Linked DNA regions of Homo sapiens. The protein of the gene in region 2 purifies or fractionates together with the protein of the main gene of each other region. This does not show direct contact. Each region holds a gene or a part of one and is shown on either strand. Other genes may lie near its edges.

What was found. The genes of interacting proteins can lie anywhere in the genome.
Region 1: the proteins of LRP1B (region 2) and SH2D1A purify together in Homo sapiens (affinity purification with mass spectrometry, with the first as the bait; one study listed by BioGRID). This does not show direct contact.
Region 3: the proteins of LRP1B (region 2) and FGB purify together in Homo sapiens (affinity purification with mass spectrometry, with the first as the bait; one study listed by BioGRID). This does not show direct contact.

The regions. Positions count from the first base shown.
Region 1 is NC_000023.11:124,349,563-124,353,062, reverse strand, and holds part of SH2D1A (SH2 domain-containing protein 1A), read right to left. Parts: intron 1-3,500.
Region 2 is NC_000002.12:140,233,661-140,239,144, forward strand, and holds part of LRP1B (low-density lipoprotein receptor-related protein 1B precursor), read right to left. Parts: intron 4,637-5,484; coding exon 4,492-4,636; intron 1,225-4,491; coding exon 1,126-1,224; intron 1-1,125. UniProt on the Homo sapiens protein: Potential cell surface proteins that bind and internalize ligands in the process of receptor-mediated endocytosis.
Region 3 is NC_000004.12:154,566,011-154,569,510, reverse strand, and holds part of FGB (fibrinogen beta chain isoform 1 preproprotein), read right to left. Parts: intron 3,023-3,500; coding exon 2,839-3,022; intron 1,919-2,838; coding exon 1,691-1,918; intron 1,131-1,690; coding exon 1,017-1,130; intron 330-1,016; coding exon 204-329; intron 1-203. UniProt on the Homo sapiens protein: Cleaved by the protease thrombin to yield monomers which, together with fibrinogen alpha (FGA) and fibrinogen gamma (FGG), polymerize to form an insoluble fibrin matrix. Fibrin has a major function in hemostasis as one of the primary components of blood clots.

The sequences.
Region 1 (3,500 bases), on a different chromosome or scaffold from region 2:
CAGGGGATTTGAATATTTAGGATATTTATCACCTCAAACATTTATCATTTCTATATGTAAGAACATTTCAAGTACTCTCTTCTAGCTATTTCAAAATACATAAGATATTGTTAACTATAGTCACCGTACTGTGCGACTGAACACTAGAACCTATTTCTTCTATCTAACTGTCTGTTTGTACCCATTAGCCAACCTCTCTTCATCGCCTTCCACCCTTCCCAACCTCTGGTAACTATCATTTTACTCTCTATCTCCATATGATTGAGGAATCCCACTACAGGGTATCTATCAAAAGGAAAGGAAATCAATATATCAAAGGGATACTTGCGCCCATACATTTATCACAGTACTATTTACAGTAGCCAAGATATAGAAGAGTCCAGCAACAGATGAATGGATAAAGAAAATGTGCTATGCATATACAATTGAATACTATCTGGCCATTAAAAAGAATGAAATCCTGTTATTTGCAGAAATGTAAATAGAACTGGAAGTCATTATGTGAAGTGAAATAAGCCAGGCACAGAAAGACAAATATCATGTGTTCTCACTGGCATGTGAGAGCTAAAACATTTGGTCCAATGAATTTTTTTTAACTTAATAAAATGATTCTAGATTTCATTTTGAAGAACCAACAGATAAGAATAGCAAATAATTTTTAAAATATATTAAAACATTATCATACTATAGTGCTATCAGTGCAAGAATAAATGGATCAATTGAGACAAATAGATAGTCCAGAAACAGTAACTGTTATATATAAGAATTTAATATATGGTAAAGTCGGCTAGCAAATCAATGAAGAATGGAAGTTGTATTTATAAATTATATTAGGACAATTGCTAGCTATCTGGAAACAAAATCAAATTAGATCTTTTATCCACATCAAAATACAACTCCAAATGGAATTAAAGAGGTAAATGTAAACTAACAAAACCGTAATTTAAAACAAAAACTGCAGTGAAGTTTTATGACATATCTCAAGGGGAAAGGACTTTCTAGCCAAGGAAGAAATCAAACACAAAGAAAACGAGTGACGTATTTGACTACTAAAAAGTTTGATTTTTGTATGTGTCAAAAAAAGTAAGGGCAAACACCAAACTTAGAAAACATACCTTGCAACAGATCAAGGATTAGTATATATATAAATTTACAATGTGTTAAAAAAGTTTGATTTTTGTATGTGTCAAAAAAGTAAGGGCAAACACCAAACTTCGAAAGGATACCTTGCAATAGATCAAGGATTAGTGCACATATATATATATACACATAGAGTGTGTTTAAAAAAAGTATGATTCAACTGGTTAAATGAGAAAAATACACAAAAAGCCAAATCATGGGAGGAAATACAACAGCTTAACAACCATATAAAATGACAGTCACTAACCAAAGGAATATAAAATGTGGAAAATAAAGAGATAGAGTGTAAATATAAAATAAAGAATAACAGGCCAAATGTCAAGGGAAAATTTTCTTAACTACAATACCCACTTCTAGTGAGGGTGTGGTGAAATGGACACTGATGCATTACAGGTGAGCATGTAAATTGGAATAACCATTTAGGGAAAATATCTCATGATCATGTATATATCAAGAATCCTAAGCTGTTTATGTTTTCTGACCTAGAAATTCCACACTGGAAATTCATTCTAAGGAAATAATCATAAATGCAAGGAAACTTTAATGTACTGAAATATACATCCTGATGGAATTTATAATAACAAAAATATGGAATGAGTCAAATGTCTAAAAGTAGGTGACTGGCTAAGCAAAATATGGTATACTTACTAGCTAGCTGGACTACCATGCAGCCATTAAAAATAACATCTTAAAGTTGTCTCTAAGAACATTACATATGAGTGTATTTTTTTCATATTAAGTGGGAAATGGGAAACGTATACAATTGTAAGAATACAAGAACACAATCATATTTTTAACACATGTAAATTTATATATAAATATATATAAATATATATTTATAATAATATATATAAAAATATATATTTATAATAATATATATAAAATATATATATTTATAATAATATATAAAAATATACATATTTATAATATATATATAATATATTATATCTTATATACAATATATAATATATTATATCTTATATACAATATATAATATATCTTATATACAATATATAATATATTATATCTTATATACAATATATAATATATTATATCTTATATACAATATATAATATATTATATCTTATATACAATATATAATATATTATATCTTATATACAATATATAATATATTATATCTTATATACAATATATAATATATTATATCTTATATACAATATATAATATATTATATCTTATATACAATATATAATATATTATCTTATATACAATATATAATATATTATATCTTATATACAATATATAATATATTATATCTTATATACAATATATAATATATTATCTTATATACAATATATAATATATTCTATATTATACTATATAATATAGTATATAATATACTATATATAATATAGTATATATTATATATTATATATAGTATATAATATATATTTATATATTATATATAGTATATAATATATATTTATATATTATATATAGTATATAATATATATTTATATATTATATATAGTATATAATATATATTTATATATTATATATAGTATATAATATATATTTATATATTATATATTATATAATATTATATATAATATATATTTATATATTATATATTATATAATATTATATATAATATATATTTATATATTATATATTATATAATATTATATATAATATATATTTATATATTATATATTATATAATATTATATAATATATATTTATATATTATATATTTTATATTATATATTTATATATTATATATATTAGATATTTATATATATATAAATATATAACATTTGGTGTTTGCCCTTACTTTTTTTGACGCATACAAAAATCAAACTTTTTAGTAGTCAAATACGTCACTCGTAAGAATACAATTGTAAGAGCACACGTGCTCAAAAAGCAATTCATCTTATTAAAATATAGAAGAAAATTCACCTAATTTTTAGCAATAGTCATCTTTAGGTTATAAAACTATAGATGATTTTTCTCTAATTTCTATTATCTATATGTTTCAAATTTTCTATAATGAATAGGTATAAGGAACTATTTTTAATAGACTTATACAAAAATCTATATTTATTTAGAGAAAGTAATTGAAAGAAATACTTATTACTTAAAATGAAGGTGAGCAATCCTATAAATGGAAAACTCCTTTAGTGCTTTATGAAGCAGTTCAATTTTCGATTTTCTAAATCAGAACAGAAGAAAAGGCCATATCTGAAAGCCATGATTAGGAGGTTCAGAACTGGGGAAAAGGGCAAGCATCGTTTGAAAGTACAGTTTAAAGTACAGTTTGAAGGCATATGAAATGTATTATCTCTACAATAAAAATATAAAAACTATAGCTCAATTAAATCTTCTTGGTTAATAGGAGTA
Region 2 (5,484 bases):
TCATGTTTTCAGTTTTTGTGTTGTCCCCCTTATTGCTATTACAAGCCTATCCGTGGCAAGTAAGATGTGTTTTCAGAAAAACATTTGTTTGGTGCTTATAATTTTTCAACATGAACTTAAAAACAAGTAAACAAAAATGTAAAGAAATGCATTAGTGTATCAGATTTTTAAAGCAATATTTTTGCCTCAAACAACCTGTGTGTACTTATTAGAAATATTTTTGGACTTTTTCAAAGAATTGTGATGTACACAGTCATCTTAAGTTTCACAAACATAGCATTTTGAAGTAGAATTAGAGGCATGCAGCAGCTGACCTCTTTGAGTTGGAAAACATATACATACAATGTTCACTATTTAACAAATTGCAGTTTATCCCAAGAAAATTTTGCCTAGTGTTTGTTTTCCTTATTTTTTGTTTCGTCTTTCCAAAAACAGTACATTAAATCTTAGTTACAACAAGGAAACATTATAATCTTTGAGCCATGCAATTGAGACAAACATGATAGAAAATGAGGATGAAAACAGTTGATGGGAAAGACGATAAGGGAGAGAATTCTCATCCCTAGGAATCTTGATAATGCATATTTTTATTCCTCTTCTGCTTAAAATGAACTATGTAACTTTAGACAGAACAGCTTTCTCTAAACACCAGTTACTTAATTGAAACATGTTTTTGAGAGTGGTTTTGTTAGACCGTCTGTAATTTCTCAATATGATGACACATTTTAAAGTATAGTCTATTTAACTGCACGTCAAATTTGTATATATTAAATAAACCACTATGAGAGGAAATGAATAAAATCAAAAGTTTATTCAGTTTTAATTTCTGGCTAGAGCTTCTTTGCTAAGAATAACAAATACTCATGTTCACTGTAAAGGGACAATAACATTTCCAAATCCAGTAGAAGAGATATTTCTACTTAATGGCTTGCCTAAAATAATGTTTTAGATGTAATCTTGCATAGACAGGACACATAACATAAGCCCCCAATTTAAATGCTATTTTGAAATCTCTTGTTAATTAAAAACTTAATTAAAAACAAGCCTCTAAGTCTAGTAATTAGTCTTTGATTGTGAGGGTTCTGTGATGAAACGGACATGAAATAACGAATATTCTTCTCTCACCCCAGCAGTTAGTGGTCCTTTCAAATCAGAGTTTAGGTAGATGGGCGGCGCTGTGTGTGGAAGCTTGAAAGCACTGGGTCCTCCCCCTATGTACCTGGCCTGTATATAAACAGAAAATTTTAGTTTCTGATCTAATATTATAGAATCACTTTTCATCGATACATATCATGTTAATTCATAAAAATAACATAAAAATACCCTTTAGCCTTACACCATTTACAGTGTGTTCATGTTAGCTTTAACAACTTAAAACAACTTAAAATATCCAATATTAATATTATTAAAGATCCAATATTAATATTGGATCTTTGCTTCATAGGTAGACATTTCTCTCACAAAAGTCTTATTCAGAAAATATAAAGAATAGTCCAAGTAAGAATTGGCATGAATTTGAAGATAAAACTAGTACATATTTATCTCTTTTAAACTCTTCAAACTGTTCTGTGGTTACCCCCATAGTCAAATCAATTTTATTAACTGCATTAAGTACTTTCAATCCTTTTGATTATAAGATACCATTGAACTAGAAATTTTACCCTCTTTGAGAATAACAGAAATGAGTGTTCTACAAAATTTTTCTTCACATGTAATGTAATTTATACTGATTGCACCATGCATATATCAAACGCTTGTAACAAAGTGAATGCTCTATAAAATTCATATGATTATTAAGGTTGCTTCAATATGGCCCTTTGTTTCTCACTACTGTCTAAACCTATTAGAACTAGCTGTTTTTTTCTGTAGTTACTCATTTGACAACAATTCACATTTATATTCAAATATCAGGATCCAGATAGAATCAGTCATCTAAGTCATATTTGATGCAATTTTGGTTATTCAGTCATCCAATTGGTAAATATTTGAGTATTATGTTCTAAGTACATTAAAATATATTTGGGGGCACTGAAACATAGTTTTATCTTCCTAGAGTAAATGTGAAAATTTTTGAATGTGTAAAAAGCTATTCTCTTTAAGTGTACAAAATTGGATTAATTCTATCACTAGAAATAAAAATGATGAGGAAAAAATAACCCTCCTTCATATGAAAAATGTGTAAAGTATATCGTCATTAGTCTGTTATATGTATGAATACTATATTTTTATTCCTAAGAAAAATGCAAAGAATTTCAGAACTCTATTATTTGTCTTTCTCCTTCATAGATATAATAGATTATCAATAGCAATGTGTAAAATATGTATCATGTCTCCACTTCTGTGATATTTTAAAGCAGAAAATATCAAATGTAAGGTTACCAAGACTTTTTCCTTGAAAAATTTCAGATGTAGGAGTGAATTTTAATAACTATAAAATTATGTCTAATTAGAAAAATATAATATTCTCTGATAGTACACAATGTATCCATGTGAAAAGATTGATTTTCATAGAAGTGAATAGTTGAGCATCAATTTTAGGCTTAGAAAGCCTAATCATGGGTTCAGAACTAGACTGAATATGTGGGATCCTATTCAGATTCTTCAGGAACACCAATGACTGTGATTGCAAAATAATTTGAATGTAGATTGGCCACATTGGATATTTACAATGTAAAAGTGCATTTTGATGAAGTAACTTTTGTAAGTCAGAAAAATAAATAACTATTCAATAAATAAGTGAATAAACCAAGAAAAATTGTTTCATAATACTAAATTGATACTCTTAATTTAGAGAAAAAATATTCTAAAATTATCAGAAAGAATATTCAGATAATTCACTGAAGTAAATCTTCACAACTTTAACTGGATAATTGTATCATTTAGCTATTTCCCTTAAAAGTTGCCAACCTCAGCTTATAGTAATAAAAACTAACAAATATTTTTAAATTTAAAAGGCTGTGGATTGTCAGGCTATATGTATCAATGAAATGTTTTAAACTAGTAAGGATATTATGACAGATAGAAAAATATTTCTCAAAAGTGATTTAATTACAAAGAAGTCCAAGGACACAGCTTATCTGGCTCATCATTTAAACATTATTGGAAACAACATACTTATTTTGATAATAAAGTACTGTACTCTTTTATATTTAAAAAATACACTGACCAAGATTTTTACACTAAGCTGTGTATCTAGATTTGCTAATACCTCAACACATTTGATTAGAGCATTATTTTACATGAATTATACATATTTATGAGATACTGTGTTTTGTTATGTTTTTATACATGTATACATTGCAGAAAAAATCAAAGTATTTAGCATATCTATCACCTCATACATAGTTATTTTTTTGTGGCGAGAACATTAAAAATCCTTTTCTAGCTATTTTTAAATATACAATACAATATTGTTAACCACCATCACCTAACTGTGCAACAGAACACCAAAACCCATTCCTCTTATCTGACTGTGACTTTGTACCCATTGAACAACACCTATTTTCCTTCCTCCTCCCCTCTCCACCCTCTAGTAACCACTATTCTACTCTCTACTTCAATATTAACTTCTATAGATTCACATGTGAGTGAGATCATGTGGTATTTGTCATTCTGTGCCTGGATTATTTCATATATGACAATATCATCCAGCTTTATCCATGTTGCCTCAAATGACAGGATTTCCTTCTTTTTTATGGCTGAATAGCATTTTCTTTATTCATTGTTGATGCACACTTAGGTTGATTCTATATCTTGGCTATTGTGAATAATGCTGTAAAAATCATGGAAGTACAGATATCTCTTCAATGTACTGATTTCCTACTTATTATGTATCAATTAAAACAAAAAACATTAAAAGAAGGATTCCATGTCTGAAGTGATGAAAACAAAACTATCTTGTAAGTATCCAGTTCCTACCAAACCAAAACCCCATAGAACCACACTGTAAGGAATACTGGGAGGAAGTGGGTAGAAAAGAAAATGTCTCACCAAACTACTTTTCAGCCATATTTCTAGAAGCTGTGCATGTATTGGTCTTCTCCTTGCATATATTTCAACATTGAAAGTCAGTAGCTTTACTTTATAATAGACCTTTATCTATCTATATATCTATCTATCCCCTGAAGAAGACCTAAACAATTTGCTGTGTGATATCAATACTAAAACAATTTTTAAATGAGTTTTTCGTTTGCTTTATGTAAACAAAATTAGATAATGAATCATTTTTCAATAAAAAACATATAAAAACATGTTTATAAAAGAACTGAGCAAATAAATATGTGTTTTCTAAGATGTGTTACACTCAGCTTCAGGTGAATGCAGTCCATAATTGTACTTTCTCTTTAGAAGAGGCTATATCATTCAATACATCCTAAAGTCCCTTATTCTAACTTCAGATAACAGAAAAACTTGGTGAAATTCAGAACCATAAAACAGAGATGCGACTCAAGAATGTTAGTGCTCACTGCCCATTATCTTAAGACATACTACCTTTGTTGGGTCTATCATAAAGCCAGGATCTAAAAGACCTCCATCGTTGTGATCATGATCTACCTCATACATGTTATAAGATGGATTGCCAATTTCTACATTTATTCCTCCATTGATAATAGGTTGTCTTCTAATTGTTTTTGTCCTAGAATATATAAACATTAATATGTGTGAGTTTTGTATAAATATCACAATCAAGGCATATGAAATTATATTTATAGATTTACTGACTTATTTTGAAATAAATTGAATAAATGACATTTGTCAAGTAACAGAGGAACAAAAAGTAGTACATTGATAGGCTGTTTTCCCAGTTGTTTTGACTTAATAAAAACACACTGGAAATAAATACCTCCTAAATAGCCGAAATGACATCATTTGAAATTGAATATTTACCAATCTTTTTAAATTCTATTTTTTCTCCTTTCTGAAAACTATCACAACAAAATAGTGATAAACTCTAAGATTGTTTTCAATCCCCAAGTTACATGGTTAGAATCCTGTTTTACATAAGTCAAATACTGACTCAAAAGCTCTTGGTTTTTAAGCTTATTTTGTACAAGTGCAAGTTTGTTACGTGGTTATATTGCATAGTGTTGAAGCCTGGGCTTTTAGTATGTCCATCACCCAAATAATGTACGCTGTACCCATTAGGTAATTTCTCATCAACCACCCCACTTTCATTTCCCGCCCTTCTAAATCTCCAATAGTTATCACCCTACACTCTATGTCAGTAATAATGGACATTATTTCACGTCCATTTGTAAGTGAGCACACATGGCTCTTGTCTTTCTGTAGACAACCTAGTCTTCTAGATCTATAAGTTCATTTTCATATAAATTGAAATGATACTTCTAATGAGGTATAAGTGAATCAATGCACTATTTGTGAAAGAAATGTACAAATTGGAGATGTATATATGCATATCAGTATCACTGTATTGACATTACTAATCATACACATTAATATAAAAAGATGCTCCTCAGAGACCCT
Region 3 (3,500 bases), on a different chromosome or scaffold from region 2:
AAAGAAAAACAAAATAAAATCTCACCAAAAATAAAATTTTGGGAAACTAAAAACTGCCTTTCTTCCCTTATCTTTAGCTTCCACATTTTTGTCAGGAAACTCCTCTTAACTGCCTAAAACAGGCTTCCAACAATGAATGTTTTTTAATTAAAAAAAATCCCATTTCAAATAGAATGATTTTATTTTGCATGCCTGTTCGTTACCTGGTAGGCCACAGTAATTCTTCCCATCTGTGTTGGTTGCAACATTTCCAAATCCCTGTTTATATGGATCCCATTTCCTGCCAAAGTCAACACTACCGTCTTGACGGTTCTGAATCACTGTCCATCCTTTGGTTGACAGAAACAAAAAGAGCATATATTAACCAACAGCAAATAATGTCACTTTGAAAATAATATCTGAATCCCCTGTCCATTCCATTTAGTATATATTTGGTGCTCTAAAATAGACACAATAAGGAAATAAATATGAGAGGTAAACTTGTAAAATCTTTGGAAACTGCAAGTGCTTTATCTTACCCCAAATTGTGAATTATAGATATTTTATAACTTTTTAAATATCAGGTTGAATTCCACATCAAATTACTCTTTGTCAGCTATGTTAGATGTTAGAGCTAAGTCTTGTTTCCTGGCTTTTTAATTAATTTTTTTTTTTGAGACAGGATCTCACTATCCTCTGTTGCCCAGGCTACAGTTCAGTAGCATGATCAAGACTCCAGGTTGTGGGCTCAGGTGATCTCCCATCTCAGCCTCCTGGATAGCTGGGACTACAGGCACATACTACCAACACAGCTGATTTTTTTTTTTTTTTGGTATTTTTTTTTTTTTTGTAGAGTTAGGGTCTCATTATGTTGCCCAGGCTAGTTTCAAACTCCTAGGCTCAAGCTATCAGCCCACTTTGGCCTCCCAAGGTGCTGGAATTACAGGTATGAGCCACCACACCTGGCCTTGTTTCCTGGCATTTTACGGTATCCAAATAATTACAGATCAACAGGTCAACAACTGTCGAAAGCTTACCTCCATTTTCTGTATTCATGTCACAGTATACTCTATACGGTTTGACAGAACTGTCAGGTTGAATGAGATACATTTCAGATGTTTCACCTCCTTTCCTGATAATTTCCTCACATTCTGCAAATGTAAGACAACATTATGTTCAGGGGTTTATGACATAATTACTTTGTATTTAGTCACCAATTCTTTAAAATAACATTACATAAGTTACTAAGGAGTGTGTTATTATAGACCTTTGAAAATAATATAACAAATATTAGATTTTCATTTTACTTTAGTAAGTCCAACCCAGTTTTGAGGACGTTTATCTGCTAAGAGGATGAACAAAGCTCTTCTCCACCTTTTGTGTCCTGGAATATCCATGAGCTCCCAGAACACACAAAATGGAGAAACTTCTACATCTATCTGTGGTTCTGCCATCTGTTCAAGCCAGTACGCAGATGCACACATCAGCCACCCCTGGGACTACCTGTGCCCCATCCTGCTCATCAAAACCAGCAAATGCACCAGGCCAGTCCAAAACACAACTGGCTAAGGATATTTTTATGATGTACTGTAATGTCATTATGATCTGTTGGGAAAATCCACTTAGCATTTTTGTTGTTGTTGTTGTTCTCTTATTTTTGGTGTGTGAGTTCTTCTGGAACTCTCTAAAAATATGTTTATGAATCAGTTACCTTTGCCAGACACCACAGGAATATTGCAACTGACAGTGCATGGGGTGCGACAATATTCCATTTGAGCTGAGACATCAGATTCTAACTTTTGTATTTTGCTTCTCAGGTTTTCCAGGATTGAACGAAGCACACGAAGGTTAGTTGGGATATTGCTATTCACAGTCTCATCTATATATAATTGGTGCTTTTCCAGTTCTGAGGAGTACTCATTGACTACATTTTCATTATCTGGAAAAATGAAATTATGTAGAAATAGTTAGCATTTTTGCCTCATAAAACTAATGTATTTAACTATACAATTTTGATTTTCTGAGAATAAACTATTAAACACTGAGCTATCACCAAGCAGTTATGATATATAGTCATATTTAGTGGAAATGATTTGGCGCATGACATATACAAATTAACATAAATCCTAACCACCATACTAGTAATTTACCATAGGTATACGCTAAAGATTGTGTCCAGTAATAAATGAAATAGGTTGTTTATTTCTTTGGTGAGGGAAAAGAGGAGAAAGCAGTATTGGGGTCTTCCATCTGAGAAGTTCAATCTTACAGAGTGGATATGCTTGATTTATTTATCCATTTCACATAAGTATAGCAGAACCTTGAAATTTATAAGATGTCATGATTCCTTTGATTTCTTTGAAAAATTTCCAACTGTGGGTATGCTACTCACTGAGATGCCTGTGCCAGGCTCACGCACTAGCTGTTTCCTGACCACCAAGTCAACAGCACTCAACATTCTGACCTCAAGATTCACAGGTTAGGTGTCATTATCCACAACACAATTGAATATATTATGGATAACTCTCTCATTCAAAACCTCAAATGTTAAAACTATAAATGCTAGGGGTTTTTTTCCACTCTGTAAATATTATCTTCTGAGTCACAAGTTTCTTGTATACTTAAAATAAGGAGTCATAGTAGAATTTTTCATAGAAAATCACACTTGCTGATGTCAGACTGGGAATAAGAGCTGAATAGTGCTTATCTGGCAAGTTGCAGGGGAAGGTGCCCAAAAGCGTATGAATGCTATTCACTAACCCAGAAATGTTAATCTTCTCACAACCATGCATTCTCGTGGCAGTCTAACGGTTCCAATTTTATAGCTGAAAATCGAATGGAAAGCACAAGGATATCTACCTTTTACTTGCTTCTGCCTCTTTTGCCACAGGTCTTTCAGCAAATACATGTACTGAAAGGAAGAAGAGGAGGTCTGGGAAACAGCTTCCACATTGTTATTTAACTCATCAACACTATTTCTGATTGGCCTTTCCTGTTGTAGCAAAGCCTCTTGCAACTGACATCCTGTAGGACACAACACCCCCTAAAAACAAAGAAAATAGCAGGCATTAGATGAAGGATTTGGGTCATGGACATTTGTTAAAATAGCACATAGGAAAATTCAGCGATACGATTAGCCAACATAAAAATTTATTATTTGGTTTTCTGTAAGACCAGAAATTCGAAAGTCATCATCATACTCTCATAGAGATTTAAAATATTACTTACCCCAGAAAAAATATAATTGGGCTATGAAAATTTTACCAACTAAACAAAGGCAGTGGCAAAATACAAATGGAAAGGTGGCACCCACATATCCTAATTTGAAATTTTGGGCCCAGACCAAAGAAAACAAGAAAGAAAGCCTAAACCAAAGGCCCAATATGTTTATGTTTTGAATTTTATTTCCAAAATAAACAAACAAAATAACAGTGATGGTAATGTGGGTCAGTGAAACATTAGCAGACTGCCATGACTACAGGCTTTCTCTGCATGAGAGAGCCACCACTGCAAGAAACATC